Linked DNA regions of Homo sapiens: region 1 is reported to be linked to region 2. The links are microRNA targets in miRTarBase. Many come from high-throughput screens and were not tested one by one. Region 2 holds a microRNA gene; the other region holds the end of a gene's coding sequence.

Region 1 (4,347 bases), not on the chromosome of region 2:
GCTCCAGGCTCCTTTTCTACCCTTGCAGGACGTGCTCCTCAGACCCCTTCCTAAAACCCCTTATGTTTACCCCCTGCGTTGTGTCTGGGAGTTGCTCTGGGGGGAATTCCAGTGACTTGAGGTCCCTTCGAGGGAACGGAGTATCTAGGTAAAGGCGAGAGTTGTGCGCGCTTCCCGGGGTCGTGGGCGATGGGCAGGGACTGGCTACAAATCCCATGGGCATTGAGACTGAGGAGGGTCCAGTGGGAGCCGGGGGAAGAAGGGACCGTATTAGCGCTCGGGGTCGAAGGACTGCTCACCTGAACTAACCAGTGCAGCGTTTCGCCGAAGAAGGGCCACCCCATGGAGCCCTTGGGCAGAGGCAGGGTGGAGGCCCGGTCCCGGCTCAGCATCCAGCGGAGGGTCCAGAGGTGCTGGGCCAGGCTGAGCAGCAGGCCCGCGCACAGGAGAGCAGTGCCCGCCGCCCCCAGCACTGACAGGCAGCTCAGCCCCCAAGGGAACATGATGAGCCCGCGGGGGCCAGGCCGCTCAGAGCGCAGGGAGAGCAGGGGACGCAAGAACCGGGGCGCGAGCAGTGCGCAGTGCTCACCTGTTCCGTCCGCAAAAGGCCTGGGGTTTGGGGGCAAAGCCCGAGATTTATAAGCTCAGGCCAGAACTCTGTTCTAAAAACAGACGGACGGTGAAAGACTGCAGTGACCGTGCGCCCTTAGGGAACGTGCCTTCCTCGAGGCCGGCACGCTCAGGACTTTTTCCTGGCTCCTGGGCCCAAATGCCAGTCCCTCTCGAAGGTGCCTGCTGCCTCGGGAACGCTCACTCCCGGCTCCGCGGGGCACCTCCCACCTCCTCCCGGGCTCAGCACCCTTTGGATAGAAGAAGGGAAGGAGGGCGAAAGAAGAGCAACTCACCAGTGTTGCCAACCTGGTCTGCAGACCCCCGCCCCACCTGTCCCTCCTCCAGTCGTTTAACCCTTCTTGGCCCACGCTGGACACGTTTATATAGATATTGGCTCCCCCCCTACGGACCGATCCCGGTTCACACAACGTGACGTGTCTTTGCATATTTAAAGCGCTCCACGCAGAGTGGTGATTGGAGGCGGTGGGCAGCGGCGCGCTCACGGAGGGGCTCTGAGTAGGGAGTGGCAGGCGCCGGGGCGGCTCGAGCTGGGCTGGGGGCTCGCCCCGCGAGCGTCCTCGGGCGGGGCCTGCGGGTTCGCGCCAGAGCTTCCCCGCTCTTCGCAGGCGCTCAGAAAGTGGGCGAACCCAACGCGCAGAACTGACCCGGGCTTGCGCCCCGCAGTGCTCCTGGCCCACCCCCGGCCGCTGGCTCCCTCTGCCGTCCCCGCCCTCGAGCTTCTAGGTGCCTTTCTCTCGCCACTCCAAGGTGAAAGAACTGGGCTTTTCTCTCCTTTGCTCCGACTATTTCAGGGAAACTGCAGTCGTCGACGCCTGCGTTGGCATCGCAAAAGCCCAGGAGGGATAGCGCAGCCGAGATTCTCCGACAGCTCCCCACCTCTCCCGGCTCTCTGATCTACCACGTCAGGTATCCTTCCAAAGATGGCAGTTCCACTACTGCCCTAGGCTTCATAAAGACGTCCTAAGCCTCCAGAAGCGGATACCCACGAGCACCTTTCCGGTCTCAAGGACCGAATTCATCCTTCCCTGCACATCCTTCCCTCCCTCCCCCGAGTTTGCCCGACGACTCTTGTCAATCTACATTGTTGCGTTTTGGGCTTTGTGCGTCCCATTCAAGGGTTCCAAATGCCTCAGGACTCACTCGTTCTTGTCCCTACAGTGCAACCTGGGGTGTGTGTGGAGGGGTGCAGGGTGTTTATATTATTGGTAAGAGTAAAGAGGTCCCACAGTGGTCTCCTCCAGGCAGTGCAAAGGCAGTATCTCTCTGAATCCCGGGACGTCTCAGCCAAAGCAGGGAAGACACCCCAAGTACGCTGGAAGGCTGGGTAAGGCGCGAAGGGCAGCCCCATTCCAGTCTTCAAAGAGAGCTAGCTGTTCACCGCTCCTCTCCTCCAGATTTCACCGTGCCTGAAGAACTACCATGCTTTTCATGTAATATTTTTAAAAACATTAAATACTTTGGATTAAGAGATGATCGAGAGAACAAGTGCGCATATGTATATATATGTGTGTGTGTGTGTGTGTGTATGTATATATACTGTTTTGGTGCCACTCCCATTCCAGTAACTAGGAAATAATATGCCTTTTCTCCAGGAAGCACTTGTTTTAAATCAGTAAGCTCTGAATAGACAAAATAGTAATGCATTTTCAACAACTTGCTCAATATTTTTAATATTTCATCACAAAATCCAGAGATGTACATATAATTCTTTACACTTATTTTACAGAATCAGGCATAGTTTCTTACAGGCCTAAATCCTGAAAAGGCAAAGGGAAGATTCAGCATAAATACAACAAAGGGAGAATAAAGACTGGATTTATATTGCCATTTGGACCACGGAAACATACACAAAGGAAAATGTACATTTGTTTTAGGTTTTCCAGAGTTCATTTGGTTTGGCTTGTTTCCACAATGAGGATAAAGTACTGAAATCTGCTATTTGAAGAAAGTAACCTGACCCCTGTGGTAACTTCTGTGTGCAGGAACCATCTACCCTCGCACAAGCTGCACCTGAAGTGGTTAGCCCCATTTAGTTCCTGTCCTCTCTTTTAACTGGAACCAAACCAAACCAAACAAATCCAGAATGGGGTCACCTACAAGCAATATAGTTAGAAATATTAACCCTGATGAACAGAAACAACACTGCATCTTTAGAAAATCCAAAACCTTTTGTTCATATTCAGAACGATTAAATTAAACCACCCAAGTAGAACAAATAATTCACATTCTTACTGAGTTAAATCAAGTTTGATTTCAGGCAGCTTTTAAGATTTGTCTATTTCCCCTTCAGAATTAGCAGAATTAGAAATTTTGGTCTGCTTAAATCACATTGAGGTGAAAATAAAAGCTAAAAGTCAGAAAATGGTAGTGAAATACTACCATATCAGACATGATTGAATTCCAAAGCCATATACTGATCAAAAAACAGATTATCATTCAAGTCTAAATAGAAAAAAATACTTATGAGTAGAGGCATATGTTTTTCAAATGTATTTGTAATCAATTTCATGTATAATTTGTGACAATTTATGTATTACACTTTTGCATTTTCCCCTAAAAGTGAAAAAATGGTCATTTTTTTCCATATATAAAATAGTATTCGATTATTTAAAAATCCATACAAATGATATTTATTACTATTTCTTGTTTAAGCCCTCATGTATCTTCTCTATTGTATTTTTGGATTCTGTAAACAAATTACTGTATCATGACCAATACTTGCTCAAGATCAACATTGAATCATGGATTTGGTGTCACTGAGTGCAAGCCATGTGAGGTCTACATGTGCTGGGACATACCATTCACCAAACTTCTCAGCTGTTTCACGACTGTCTCTATCAACTTCTGTTTGTCTCGATCATTCTTCCTGAACTGAGCAAATATATTGTTCTTTTTGCTAGTATCCTTCATCCTAGAAACATATGTGAATGAAGAAGCTTGGTAAAAGAAAATTAAAAGCTAAGCTGTCACAAGTAAAATATCTTGGCATGCTCTGAATTATCCCACACTAATCCTATGCTTGAAAAATATAGTTCAAAGAAAGTAGATACTAAATAAACATACAGATATAGTAACCATGCAAAAAATTAGAAGCTTTATTTTACATTCTATGTTAAGTGGTATTTTTGCATTAGTATGTACATCTAAAATATGCTAGGTTTACTACTATCATACTATTTTCTAATATTATTCCACAAAGTATGCTAAAATACATACCCTGTATAGACTCTGCTAATCATATTCATAGCAAGATAAGGTGAAAGGAAAATAACATTAGAAAATGTAAAATAGCGATGTTTTTGCCTCAGTTGCATTTCATGGCATTGTAAAATAAATTTACATTTATTTTAAACACTTCCTCTTGTCCTTTCAAATCAAATACACCACAAATATTTTGAAATATAGGAAAATAATAACAATTTTAATTTAAAATTGAAAATTTTAATAGTGATACTTTTTTATTTTTCTTATCCAGCAGCCCCCAGAATCACAGCAGATTCAGAGAGTCTCCCAATAGTGACATTTTAAATGAAATATGATTGAGTAAAGAAAAAGTCTGTCACATAATGAGAGGGAAAAGTTAACACCTAAATTTATGTTTAGTTGGACAAGATGCATCAGTAAATCCTATTACCTCAGTTTTTACTGTATTTTTTTTTTCAAATCACATATTTCTCTACCTGCAAAGAATCCAAGTCCATAATGCTAAGATTT
Region 2 (4,399 bases):
CAGAACAATATAGTGCACATACATATTTATCTACACATGGGAGAAATTCTGTGAAGGGTATGTACTTCCTGTTAACAGACATTTCTGGGAAATGTGTTTGGAAGGTATGAGACACCTTTTACTTTTTGATGTCTCCTGATAATGGGAAAACAGTAAGAATGTGGGTTGTATGCATGAGTGTGATTCTACACGTGTAGGTTTAGGTTTGATGTACTCCCATCCAGCTTATTCTCTTTTGCATTTTCCAGCACAGGCAGTGCTGTGCAATGTCTTGCCCAGTGGACACCCACCTAATTTTCACTCCACAAACCACTGTCCTACATCTGATCCTTAACAAAGTATGTTAGTTGTAGACACAAAGGTGGCCTACATTTCATACTTGTTGACAGTAATGCTAGTTGACTCATCTTACCTTTGTCTGAGGAGGCTGGAAATTGTTTGTCCTCAGAAACTTTAGGGAGAAATTTATTACTAAGATTGTATCATTTTGGTCTCCCCAGAGAAATGAAAAATTAGAAATTGGCCATGTGACAATCGTTGCATTTACCTCTTTAAGGAGCAGTGATTCTTTAAGTGGTGCTTGATTTATCTAAACCCGATTAATTAGTGAACGGTCATCTGTTTCTCCCAGGAATTTTTAATGATCATTAGGCTTTTGTAGTTACTGTGAAATTTTGTTTACGTGGATTTATTTTTGTGCAGGATTGTATACAGGGCAGATGCTCCTTAATTTAAGAAGGGAGATGTGAGAACAAAAGTGTCTTCTCTTGAGTGAGGGCCTGTTATGTGCCCTGACTTGTTACAAATATCGACTAATGTAACCTTCTCTACCATGTACCTTTCTTCCAATTTATCAATGAGGAAACTGATGCAAAAATGTATGTTCCCACAGGCTCTGGTGTGTTCACTGAGTTAGCTCCAGAAAGAACTGTCCCCTTCTCATGCCTGTTCCCTACTTCTTTTGCAGCTAATTCTCCGAAATGGTTTCTGTCTTCAGCTTTCTGGGCTGCCCCATCACCTGTGTTGCTTCTAAATGTTAGTTTCATTGCTGCCTTCTGGGTTCCTCTGCTTCTCTCTGACATGATGTCTCTACGGATGCATCTCTCAGTAATGATTATAATGGTGGTGATGATAATAAAAAGAGAATACACAAGTGTTTTTATCAATCCCTGACCATGCTGGGCACAATGCTAAGCATGTGCAGGCATGATGTCTTTATTCTGCCCACTCAGCTGATGAGATTGAAGGGGCTCCCTGCAGGTTGGGGCCTGAAAAACACAGCCAGGTCCATCTAGGAACTAGAAGCTATGGTCAGGCTTACATGCTTTTTTCATATCAGTGTTCATGTAGATGTTTAAGCTCTTGCAGTAGGTTTTTGCAAGCTAGTGAACGCTGCCAAATTATGCTCGCCACACAATTGCAGCCACCTATTCCCAGGCAGTATAAATATATGGCTGAACTAACATTAATACCTATCACTGTTTTATCAAGTGACATAATCAAGATAATTATGAAGTATCCAAATATTAATTTTCATAGATTAAAAGCAGATAAAGTATTAGAAATCTGCTTATATCATTAGCAGAAACATTTTTGGGGGCCACAGGGTAAGGAAAAGAGGGGAAAATATTGTCCTTCAACAAAAGTAATCATATTCTAGTAAGTATAATAAAAGAAATGACAAGCTTTTCAGAATTTCCACGACTAAAAATTGTTTTAGCTGCAGCTAAAAAAGCATCACATAACAAAATATCTCTTGTTTAAAATATTTGCTACAAAAAAGTCCTATTCTATATGTCCTGCATAAGAACAAGTATCTTTATATAAGAAATGTGTTTAATAGCCCTCTTTCATTCTTTTTCTGAAGCCCTCCCTGTTAAATTGCACCCAAAGGGGAAACATTAATTGAACTGTAAAGCTTTTTTTTTTTCTGTCTAAAGACATTAAAGACATATAGGTGGTATTAAATGAACCTTTAACTAGAGCTCTGTGAGTTTTCAAAATAGATTTTATTTTTCTTTACCATAGGCCAACAGAGATTTTGAGAAACACATTGAAGGATCTGTTAACACTTGATATACCCAATAAAAGCAGTGGTTGTGCCAGTGCTGATCTGTCTTGATGTGAATGTGAACAATGGGAACCTGAGCTGAGCAGGTAAATAATCATGTAGTACAGTCACCGTCTTCAGTGTTTGAGATGACTAGCAGGGTAAACCACGCTGTGTCTAAGATGCAGTGTTAATTCTGTTTGAAGTAAAAATATGCAAGTGTGGTACTGGATATTTTGGCACGCAATCTTGCGAAATTTCTCATTGATGAGATTCTGACATAGGAACTACATTTGAGTAAGAATCATAGCTCAATACAGCATGATTTCAGGAAAGTCGACTAAGATAAAAGTGTTTCTGAGGCTGAACAGCAAGAATCTTTTGCTAAGAGTTAGAATAGATTGACAAGAACCTAAAATCAGAAGTTGCAATTCTGCTGAGATACTGCTTTTCAGTTCTCCGGTGGAAGCTTCATTGGACATATTGTACATCAAGCCTCTATGTGACTGATTCCTGCCTCTTTATGTCTTGTTTTAGATTCTCCATGGCAGTAGCTTTAGGCAACCCAGTTTTACTGAATGCAGCAATGGTTTCAGTGACCATTAGAGTCCAATTTTAGGATGATACTTCTCCAAATTGTTAAAACTCCCTGGTGCTTTTCTCTTATAAACTGCAAAATGTCTTCATATTTCATCCCGCTTTTCAGTTAATGCTAGGGTGACAGAAACTGGACCTCTCCCAAGACATGTGACAGAGTAATACAGCAGCCAACTTCTTCGCCAAATTAAAGTTTTACAAGATTTAACCTGTCATCAAGACCTGGGATTTTGGTGGTGAGTCATCTTCAAAAGCCAAGTTCGGTCCCTGGTTTGCCTTCTTTTCCGCACAAGAACAAGGGTTTTGATGGCTCTGGTCTCCAGGACCATCTGTGGCTTTCTATTAGCAATAATCGCACCTCGGTGAAACCTCATTGGCTACGATACTGCCACTGCGCAAAGCTCATGGCTTTCTTTAATAGCAAATGGCCTCTGACTTTTAAGAAGCCATGTGGCTACCCCTCAGCAGACTTAGGAGAGGTCTTGGCTATTATTTGTTGTTTTATAAGGTGTCATCATTGAGCATCTACTCTGGATGAGGCTCTGTGCTGGGCTTGAGGGGTACAGGGAAGTTTCACATGTCCCGTCTTGTTGAATCACACACACTTGATCTCACTACAACAGCAGAAAACAAGTTAAAGTTCCCCAGGGGTTGACACATTTGCCTGCCGTGTTTATTGCTGCTGTGATTTCTGCAGCATGGTCCAAAGAAGGCAATCAGTCAACAGTGAATGGGTTGAGATTTTGTGATTTTGGTTTAGGAGTCTTAATCTCTAGAATAAAATCTAATGAAAGGGTGGGGCTATGTTTTTCTCTTGCCTTGACTTCTTTGACTCTATTTGTAAATTCCAAATTTACCCAGGCCTCTGGCTCATTCTGTCTTAAGGTGCGGGGACCTCTAAAATGTAGATGGCAACAATCTTTAGACTATATGTGTCTTGATGGTAGGGCAATCAAATTGATTTCCTCAGCATATACGAGTCATGTTTTGTAAGCATGGTGGGTACTTAGTCAATGTCTCAATCAGATTTGCTTCTGTTTAGCAAGATAATCTTTTGTGGGGGAGTGTTATGGACTGAACTGTTTTCCTTCTTCCAAACGTATATGATGAAACCTACCCCCATGTACTCAGTATTAAGAAGTGGACCTTTGGGAGATAATTCAGGTTAAATGAGATTATGAGGGTGGGGCTCTCGTGATGAAATTAGTGCCCTCAAAATAAGAGACCTCAGAGAGCTTACTGTCTCTCTTCTCTCTCTGCTACGTGAGGACACAATGAGAAGGGAGCCATCCACAATGCAAGGAGAGGGCCCTCATCAGAACAGACCATACTAGCACCTTGATCTTGCACTTGTAGTCTTCAGAACTGTAAGAAAATGAATTTTCTATTATTTAAGCCACCCAGTCTGGTGCAGTCTATTATTGCCTTCCAAATGGAGAAATACAAGGAAACTAGGGCCGTCTTAGCTTCACAGAGAGAAGATGTGGAGAGGAGTTAGGAGGTAGAGACTGGACCTTGATGGTGGTGATATTCAATTAGTGAAAGGCTGAGAAGAGGTCAAATATACTTCTTGTGGCCCCAAAGATCAGAACCAAAATGGAAAGGTAGAAACAGTAGGCAAACAGAAAGCAACTTAATAAAAGGAAAAGGAACCTGAGAGAATGCTCTGTCTCTGACAGTGGTTGGGATCTCATCACTGGAGATATCCACACAGGGACTGTATTACTACTGAGAGGGGGTGGGGCTGAAAGG

What was found. Region 2 holds the annotated microRNA hsa-miR-1206 (UGUUCAUGUAGAUGUUUAAGC, at 1,340-1,360, shown strand). A microRNA usually pairs through its seed, bases 2 to 8, with sites in the 3' UTR of a target mRNA and lowers its output. Matches are read on the target gene's strand: a 7mer-m8 pairs with bases 2 to 8, a 7mer-A1 pairs with bases 2 to 7 and ends in A, and an 8mer does both.
Region 1: the mRNA of EXOC6 is a reported target of hsa-miR-1206. Seed matches in the 3' UTR shown: 7mer-A1 at 2,804-2,810.

The regions. Positions count from the first base shown.
Region 1 is chr10:93,057,420-93,061,766 of GRCh38, reverse strand. EXOC6 (exocyst complex component 6) reads right to left here. Exons shown (of 22, transcript NM_019053.6): 22 at 2,277-3,544. The coding sequence ends at 3,412. It overlaps CYP26C1 (cytochrome P450 family 26 subfamily C member 1), which reads right to left and starts at 969. Exons shown (of 6, transcript NM_183374.3): 1 at 300-969. The coding sequence starts at 503. RefSeq lists an enhancer at 42-951.
Region 2 is chr8:128,007,562-128,011,960 of GRCh38, forward strand. It overlaps MIR1206 (microRNA 1206), which reads left to right and starts at 1,337; the gene lies at 1,337-1,395. PVT1 (Pvt1 oncogene) reads left to right here. Exons shown (of 9, transcript NR_190187.1): 5 at 2,029-2,157; 6 at 2,757-2,883. It also overlaps the pseudogene RNU4-25P.